3 separate regions of the Homo sapiens genome follow, and all the other regions are reported to be linked to region 2. The links are microRNA targets in miRTarBase. Many come from high-throughput screens and were not tested one by one. Region 2 holds a microRNA gene; each other region holds the end of a gene's coding sequence.

Evidence for each region. The annotated mature microRNA hsa-miR-29a-3p reads UAGCACCAUCUGAAAUCGGUUA and lies in region 2 at 1,225-1,246, shown strand. An mRNA with a match to its seed (bases 2 to 7 or 8) in the 3' UTR can be bound and repressed. Matches are read on the target gene's strand: a 7mer-m8 pairs with bases 2 to 8, a 7mer-A1 pairs with bases 2 to 7 and ends in A, and an 8mer does both.
Region 1: the mRNA of EMP1 is a reported target of hsa-miR-29a-3p. Seed matches in the 3' UTR shown: 7mer-A1 at 1,552-1,558.
Region 3: miRTarBase lists ASXL2 as a target of hsa-miR-29a-3p. Seed matches in the 3' UTR shown: 7mer-m8 at 672-678.

Annotation. Positions count from the first base shown.
Region 1 is chr12:13,214,305-13,217,422 of GRCh38, forward strand. It overlaps EMP1 (epithelial membrane protein 1), which reads left to right. Exons shown (of 5, transcript NM_001423.3): 5 at 230-3,118. The coding sequence ends at 387. Among named protein-coding and RNA genes, the nearest start is that of EMP1, 19 kb to the left of the region's middle.
Region 2 is chr7:130,874,876-130,877,993 of GRCh38, reverse strand. It overlaps MIR29A (microRNA 29a), which reads left to right and starts at 1,184; the gene lies at 1,184-1,247. MIR29B1 (microRNA 29b-1) reads left to right here and starts at 455; the gene lies at 455-535. It also overlaps a transcript of LINC-PINT not described here. RefSeq lists a silencer at 2,435-2,634 and an enhancer at 2,430-2,724.
Region 3 is chr2:25,739,326-25,742,443 of GRCh38, forward strand. ASXL2 (ASXL transcriptional regulator 2) reads right to left here. Exons shown (of 13, transcript NM_018263.6): 13 at 1-3,118. The coding sequence ends at 2,704. Among named protein-coding and RNA genes, the nearest start is that of DTNB, 67 kb to the left of the region's middle.

The sequences.
Region 1 (3,118 bases), not on the chromosome of region 2:
GTGGCCACACAAACCAGTGCAGACATGAGAGCCCAGACACCTCTAATTTATCAACATACCGTCGAGCTTGGCCCAGGGGACATCCATCAGAACTCCTGTTTAGGGACAAACAAGCAGAATTCATTTTCCTATTGCTAATGAGGGAAATAGGATCTTCTTAAAATTAGTAAAACTTTTTCTCGACTTTAATGTAAGAAAACACACCGACAAATCTCCTTTTCCCCTGCAGGGCTGTGCATTCTTGTGGGGGTGTCCATCTACACTAGTCATTATGCGAATCGTGATGGAACGCAGTATCACCACGGCTATTCCTACATCCTGGGCTGGATCTGCTTCTGCTTCAGCTTCATCATCGGCGTTCTCTATCTGGTCCTGAGAAAGAAATAAGGCCGGACGAGTTCATGGGGATCTGGGGGGTGGGGAGGAGGAAGCCGTTGAATCTGGGAGGGAAGTGGAGGTTGCTGTACAGGAAAAACCGAGATAGGGGAGGGGGGAGGGGGAAGCAAAGGGGGGAGGTCAAATCCCAAACCATTACTGAGGGGATTCTCTACTGCCAAGCCCCTGCCCTGGGGAGAAAGTAGTTGGCTAGTACTTTGATGCTCCCTTGATGGGGTCCAGAGAGCCTCCCTGCAGCCACCAGACTTGGCCTCCAGCTGTTCTTAGTGACACACACTGTCTGGGGCCCCATCAGCTGCCACAACACCAGCCCCACTTCTGGGTCATGCACTGAGGTCCACAGACCTACTGCACTGAGTTAAAATAGCGGTACAAGTTCTGGCAAGAGCAGATACTGTCTTTGTGCTGAATACGCTAAGCCTGGAAGCCATCCTGCCCTTCTGACCCAAAGCAAAACATCACATTCCAGTCTGAAGTGCCTACTGGGGGGCTTTGGCCTGTGAGCCATTGTCCCTCTTTGGAACAGATATTTAGCTCTGTGGAATTCAGTGACAAAATGGGAGGAGGAAAGAGAGTTTGTAAGGTCATGCTGGTGGGTTAGCTAAACCAAGAAGGAGACCTTTTCACAATGGAAAACCTGGGGGATGGTCAGAGCCCAGTCGAGACCTCACACACGGCTGTCCCTCATGGAGACCTCATGCCATGGTCTTTGCTAGGCCTCTTGCTGAAAGCCAAGGCAGCTCTTCTGGAGTTTCTCTAAAGTCACTAGTGAACAATTCGGTGGTAAAAGTACCACACAAACTATGGGATCCAAGGGGCAGTCTTGCAACAGTGCCATGTTAGGGTTATGTTTTTAGGATTCCCCTCAATGCAGTCAGTGTTTCTTTTAAGTATACAACAGGAGAGAGATGGACATGGCTCATTGTAGCACAATCCTATTACTCTTCCTCTAACATTTTTGAGGAAGTTTTGTCTAATTATCAATATTGAGGATCAGGGCTCCTAGGCTCAGTGGTAGCTCTGGCTTAGACACCACCTGGAGTGATCACCTCTTGGGGACCCTGCCTATCCCACTTCACAGGTGAGGCATGGCAATTCTGGAAGCTGATTAAAACACACATAAACCAAAACCAAACAACAGGCCCTTGGGTGAAAGGTGCTATATAATTGTGAAGTATTAAGCCTACCGTATTTCAGCCATGATAAGAACAGAGTGCCTGCATTCCCAGGAAAATACGAAAATCCCATGAGATAAATAAAAATATAGGTGATGGGCAGATCTTTTCTTTAAAATAAAAAAGCAAAAACTCTTGTGGTACCTAGTCAGATGGTAGACGAGCTGTCTGCTGCCGCAGGAGCACCTCTATACAGGACTTAGAAGTAGTATGTTATTCCTGGTTAAGCAGGCATTGCTTTGCCCTGGAGCAGCTATTTTAAGCCATCTCAGATTCTGTCTAAAGGGGTTTTTTGGGAAGACGTTTTCTTTATCGCCCTGAGAAGATCTACCCCAGGGAGAATCTGAGACATCTTGCCTACTTTTCTTTATTAGCTTTCTCCTCATCCATTTCTTTTATACCTTTCCTTTTTGGGGAGTTGTTATGCCATGATTTTTGGTATTTATGTAAAAGGATTATTACTAATTCTATTTCTCTATGTTTATTCTAGTTAAGGAAATGTTGAGGGCAAGCCACCAAATTACCTAGGCTGAGGTTAGAGAGATTGGCCAGCAAAAACTGTGGGAAGATGAACTTTGTCATTATGATTTCATTATCACATGATTATAGAAGGCTGTCTTAGTGCAAAAAACATACTTACATTTCAGACATATCCAAAGGGAATACTCACATTTTGTTAAGAAGTTGAACTATGACTGGAGTAAACCATGTATTCCCTTATCTTTTACTTTTTTTCTGTGACATTTATGTCTCATGTAATTTGCATTACTCTGGTGGATTGTTCTAGTACTGTATTGGGCTTCTTCGTTAATAGATTATTTCATATACTATAATTGTAAATATTTTGATACAAATGTTTATAACTCTAGGGATATAAAAACAGATTCTGATTCCCTTCATTGTGTGAATGTTTTTTTCTAAAAAAAATGTGGAGAAATATGGATAATTATGACATTTATCCCTCATTAAGCTGCCTATCAGTTTGATTTGGACAACTTGACATTTATTTGAGACATTAAGCTACTTTCTGGTAATATATTAGGCATTTCTGCAATAGCTCTTTCAGGTAACTGAATATTATTAAGCATAGTTTTATCTTGCTTTGATTAAACCTCTTAGGCAAAAAATGGAACTTCATAAGCTAATACATTAGAAAGGGGTTATGATTATAAATCAGAAATGCTTGTGACATTAAGAAATGAGGCACTTGTGAAATTTCTTTGAAATAGCCAGCTCCTCTAATGTGTCTTCAAAATATAAAGTGATTCACAAAGGCATGCATCACACCTATTTGTAGCAGCCCATTCATTACATAAACCAGGGCATACCTGTGTGGGCTCTGTGAGTGAAGGGAGGCTTCACTACTTTCTGTGAGCAGTAAGGACTGGTATCTTTCTGTGAGCAATAAGGACTGGATAAAGACTGCATATCCTTGTGTCGTGTCAGCACCAATACAATAAGGAGGGTTTTAATGTGAAGCAGGCAATCTTCCAGCCCCTTCTGGTCTTGGATGAAATAGTTGCACAGAGTATTGCACCAAAAATACA
Region 2 (3,118 bases):
TTAGGAAAGCGTTTTTCTTCAACTTCTATGGAGCACTTGCTTGCTTTGTCCTATTTGCATGTCCGACGGACGGTTCTCCAGCACCACTGCTAGTCGTCCTCCGCCTGCCTGGGTACTTGATCACAGGATGCCTCTGACTTCTCCTGCCTTTACCCAAGCAAAGGATTTTCCTTGTCTTCCCACCCAAGAGTGACGGGGCTGACATGTGCCCTTGCCTCTAAATGATGAAGCTGAACCTTTGTCTGGGCAACTTAACTTAAGAATAAGGGAGTCCCAGGCATGCTCTCCCATCAATAACAAATTCAGTGACATCAGTTTATGAATATATGAAATTTGCCAAAGCTCTGTTTAGACCACTGAGTAACTCACAGCTAGGTTTCAACTTTTCCTTTCTAGGTTGTCTTGGGTTTATTGTAAGAGAGCATTATGAAGAAAAAAATAGATCATAAAGCTTCTTCAGGAAGCTGGTTTCATATGGTGGTTTAGATTTAAATAGTGATTGTCTAGCACCATTTGAAATCAGTGTTCTTGGGGGAGACCAGCTGCGCTGCACTACCAACAGCAAAAGAAGTGAATGGGACAGCTCTGAAGTATTTGAAAGCAACAGCAGGATGGCTGTGAGAACCTGCCTCACATGTAGCTGACCCCTTCCTCACCCCTGCCAACAGTGGTGGCATATATCACAAATGGCAGTCAGGTCTCTGCACTGGCGGATCCAACTGTGATCGAAAGTTTTCCAAAAATAAGTTGTGTCTGTATTGAACATGAACAGACTTTCTTCTTGTCATTATTCTCTAACAATACTGCATAACAATTATTTGCATACATTTGCATTGCATTAAGTATTCTAAGTAATCTAGAGACGATTTAAAGTATACGGGAGGATGTGTGTAGGTTGTATGCAAATACTACACCATTTTCTATCAGAGACTTGAGCATCTGTGGATTTTGGTATCCAAGGGGCTTTCTGGAACCAATCCCTCAAGGATACCAAGGGATGAATGTAATTGTACAGGATATCGCATTGTTGGAATTTTATACTTCTTTGTGGAATAAACCTATAGCACTTAATAGATAGTACAGACTCATTCCATTGTGCCTGGGTTAAAGAGCCCAATGTATGCTGGATTTAGTAAGATTTGGGCCCTCCCAACCCTCACGACCTTCTGTGACCCCTTAGAGGATGACTGATTTCTTTTGGTGTTCAGAGTCAATATAATTTTCTAGCACCATCTGAAATCGGTTATAATGATTGGGGAAGAGCACCATGATGCTGACTGCTGAGAGGAAATGTATTGGTGACCGTTGGGGCCATGGACAAGAACTAAGAAAACAAATGCAAAGCAATAATGCAAAGGTGATTTTTCTTCTTCCAGTTTCTAAGTTGAATTTCACTGACCTGAATTGCATGTGGTATAATACTAACAAATGGTTCACTATTAGCATATCATGAATGGTTATACTTTATAGAAATTCCATAGACTTGGTGGGGGTTTTGTTTTGGTGACGGATACCTAGAAACACTCCTGGGGAAAATCGATGACTGGCTTAGATGATGGGAAAGGAGCAGCGAGGGAGTCAATTCTGTTGTTGATGAGAAGCTGCACCAGCTATCTCTGAACTCTCCTCTCTTAGCTGGCTGAGGAGTTCCCTCCATGGTTAAACAGGTCATTTTCTTACATAAGGAAAAATGGTCCAGAGAAACTGGGTTTCTATGGCTGAGACAGAACTGTGCTAATATGTGTCAGTTCAGTTTAGAAGGCAAAGCAACAAAAGCAGGTGCTACTTGAACTAGGATCCTAGAGTATACCTTTGATATGGTTTGGATGTTTGTCCCCTCCAATCTCATGTTGAAGTGTGATCCCCAGTATTGGGGGTGGGGCCTGGTGGGGGTGGTTGAGTGATGGGGCGGATCCCTTGTGAATGGCTTGGTGATGTCCTCACTTAACGAGTTCCTGCTCAGTTAGAGGGAGCCGGTTGTTTAAAAAAGCTGGCACCTCCTTCCTCTCTCTTGCTCTTTCTTTCTTGCTCCCTCTCTCGCCATGTGACATGTCTGCTCCCTCTCCGCCTTCCACCATGTATAAAACATCCTGAGGCCTCATCAGGAGCCGAGCAGGTACCAGTGCCATGCTTGTACGGCTGCAAAACTGTAAGCCAAATAAACCTCTTTACTATATAAATTACCCAGTCTCGGGTATGTCTTTATAGCAGCGCAAAACGGACTAACACAACCTCACTAGAAGTGAAGTCATTAGACCAAAAACAATACTGAGTTTTTAGGTCCACTAAGAGGCAAAAATAAAAGGCTCTTTATAGCAGCATGATTTATAATCCTTTGGGTATAAGCACATGTATGCTAGAACTTAAAGTATAATAATAAAATATAAAAATAATAAAATAAAATAAAAGGCTCAAGAATGAGCCATCTCGGCCGCTCCTCCTCCAGGGGCCCCTGTGTGCAGCTCCCAACACAGGTACTGCACAGACCGGCCACCTGCTGTCCCCATGTGGCGTCCTGGAGAACTGCAGGGGCACCTGGTGGAATTTGGGCCTTGTCCTTCTGTTTTCTTTCTGGCCTGGAAAAGCCACTGGCCTCACAATCAAGAGTTAATATTCTATCTACCCTGCTTAAGCTTTCCCGCCCTCTCACACTGCCTCCCTCCTTTTCCCTCCTGCCTGTCACTTGTCTGGAAAAGGCCTTTTCTCCTCGGGGCTAACACATGCAATTTGTAGCCAAAACATTCTGTCTACCACACAAATCCAACGAGAATCAGGATCATTCCACCACATCTTTTTCTATCCCATGGTTATTATTTTCCCAAAACTCTTGTCTTTTGCTTTCTTACCTATTCGCTGTTTTCCCTAAGTAATCTTATTTACTCCCCTGGTTCCAAATACATCCCTATGTGTTGATTTCCCTCAAACCAGAGGTCTGGCCTGGGATATTTTTTGAGACATCTTGCTTTTTATATTTTTAGTAGCTCCTAAGTATAATAGTTCAGCCTGCTCTTCTAAACTTGTCTCAATTTAATCCATTTATGCTTGAGGTTGCAATTTTTTGAATTTTTGCCATCAGACCTTGGCAATGACCTTGAGCAGTAGGAGACAACTCCCACAT
Region 3 (3,118 bases), not on the chromosome of region 2:
TTGTTTCTACTGCTTCATTTTCTAAAAGGCCAGATTGTAATGTGTTTTTTTTTTTTTTAATTTTTCTGTTCAGCTTTTAAGATGAATGGCTTTCCACTTGAAACCTCTGTGTTGAAACCAACTGATAAATAGACTGGTATTCAAGTTACTACCCAACTGAGAGAACTTAACTGTTCTCTTGTCTGGTCAAGATTGAGGCAGTGTATCTAGTTGGCAATATCTGTTTTAGGAGTATTCCTAAATGCAAATATTTAGCTGAGTATTATTTGTTAAGATAATCTAGTGAACAGCAATGTTTAGGACCTATCTATAAGAGCCTGGGTCAAGATGAAGAGGCACAATATGGTTTGCTCTCTAAACGGACTTAAAAATCCCTGATACCTTTCCTCCTTTCCTAGTTATAGTCTGTTCATCCCTAAGTTAAGGGTAGCACAGAGGAAAACCTTTCTGACAGGAAAAAGGTAAAGCAGAAAAATCACTTTCATCAATCCAAACTGGTAACTGACATTTAGCATGGAATCAATTCCAAAACTCTCAACCTCTTCCAGCATGCAGACCAGCCCTCGGCCCTGGCACTAAGGTGGAGTTAAGGGGTAGGGCAGGGAGAGTTCTATGCAGCAACAGGTCTCTTTAAACCCTTCCTGGATTGCCCAAGGTACTGAATATTTGGGAGCACCATTATTTCTGTTTTCTACTGGTTCTTGGCTTGAAAATATACTCCTTATCCCCAATCCTTGCAGCCTTCTTATCTCTTAGCTGTGTGTGCTGGAAGAAAGGAGAAAGATGGACAGACATATCGTTCTGGCTGAAGCTGGAACACAGATATTAATCCTATATTGGCCTTGGGCCACAAAAAAGCCAGAAGTGAAAAGTGAAAAACAGTGAAGTGAGTTTCTTACGGAGAGGAGCGGAGCAGGGGCTGTGGGAAAGCATCGAAGAGTGTGTGATGTGGGGGTGGGGTGGGCAGTGGTGGGTAGTAGAATGGGGGCAAAACAGAGATGATTATTGCCCATTTTCTCCTAATCTGGAATGTGACTTAACAAGTTTAAACTGTTCTGCATTTTGTAAATATCACATCCTGAATATGAAGGACAAATACAACTGTACTATGTTGCATTAACATTTGTACTTTACCCATTCCAAATTAGGAGACTTGAAATCAATATGCAAATGATGCAAATTGACACTCCCCCATTTAATACAAAATTCTGTTAAACTGCAGGTTTATTTTAATGTTCCTTAACCATGACCTAAATATTATGTACTCACAATTTCTTCAGTCACTAGAGAAGGATTTAAAAACAAAAAAGGAAACAAGAAAGAAAAAGAAACAAAAACAAGCAACCAAAAAACCTTTAGGGCTCATTTTCCTTCCTTTCCAGATGTTCCCTTAGCCATTCAGAGGCCTCTTTCCATTAGAAATTTCTAGTGCTCAGACAGCAGTAATCCAAACAAGGGCTATATTTTCTAAAACAGGAAAAATGTCTTGTATTGTGTGTGTGTGTGTACATACACGTATGTGTAAAGTAAGATATAATAAGATGATGTCATCCTGTTCAGATGCCTGGGAGGTCAAAACAGGTTGAACAGAATGAACAAATGTGGCATTGGTGAGCTTTTCTACCTGCAACAGCAGCTGACTATCTAGCACTAGGTTAACAGGTTGGGAGAGAAGAGGAAAAGAGAAGCGACCTTGTTCTAGTGTCAAAACTGTTTTCCAAAGTTATTTACGTTCAATTTAACAGTTTCTGTGGTTTCACTCCCCTTGCTCAACAAGATGTAGCTCAAATCACCCAATCACTAACACTTTCCTGTTCATTTTATATGAGTATTTCAAAATTGTTAGTTACCACGAATGACTAAGTGCGGGGATAGGGTATTTTTGCTGGAATTGTTGCACTGCACAGCCTGTAACAACACAGGGGGTCCCAGAGAGGCACTCCCTTCACGGACTACATTCACTGTCTCAGGGCAGGGGGTGGGATTAGGGAACAGCAGGGATCCACAAATTCCAAGCAGATTGCTTGGCAACAGTACCAGTAACTAGTAACTAGTACAGTAGAAGCCAAGAACCAAGTCAGGGCTTTCAGAGTCTGAAACACTACCTGTGAAATGAATTCCTTACCAAAAATTTCAATTTAAGAAGATTCCACCTAAGGTAAAGGGACTGAGTAAAACCCTGAATCCAAGTCCTGCAAAGGCTGAATAATCTATGAATAACCTGCGGCCAGACTGTCCAGACAAAATCAGTGTGAATGGTCATTTCTTTAGACCATTCCTTCACTTTCCTTTTCCTAGCTTCCTAGGAAATGTCAGAAGGGAGACAGCTTCCTTTTACCATGCCGGCATTAAACTTTTCTCAGTCACAAGTAGTAGAACATTAATCTGAATTCAAAGTAATACATTATTACCTAAACACTTGGAAAAATAATGTTAAACAAAATGTGACATATTTACATGATTTTGTAAGTGCAAACTTGTCACAAATTCACAAAGTCTTGCTTGACTTAGACTTACTATACAAGGTGCTCTTCCTCTAAAATGTAAAAAATCTGTACTTTGTATTCCTGATTAAGTAACATTTGTCTCTGAAGACAACTGAAACCTACTTGTTTATTTCTGTGATTCCAAAAGGACGCAAAAAACCCAACTGGTCAACCCTTCCCTTCCCCCTCCTTTACAGTGTATCTCTTTCTAGTCTCATTACCGAACGACAAGGCAGGAGACGCACAGTTTGGAGGGGCCGATGCAATCATCATGGCAGAAAGCGCCACAGCCTTTGCACATGATCATGGCTTTCAAGCGGCAGTAACATTTCGAAGGCGTGCCCTCTATGCTGTTCTCTTCGGAGAACGCCTGAACAGGAATGGTCTGGCCATGGCTGCTGGGATTCATAGCTTGGCTAGCAGGGATGGTAGTGACAGTCACTGAAAATGACATGACATCACCTACATTGCTAGATACCTGGCTACCTGGTACAGCAGAGTTATGGTCCATGTCAGATGAGGTGGAGACATTGATCATGCCTCTATAGCTTGGCCCTATCTGGGTGGGGCTTCCATACAACTTCGGGGTTTGCAGGGGTGGAAGGAGTAGGGGCTGGTGGGTGGGGCTGTCT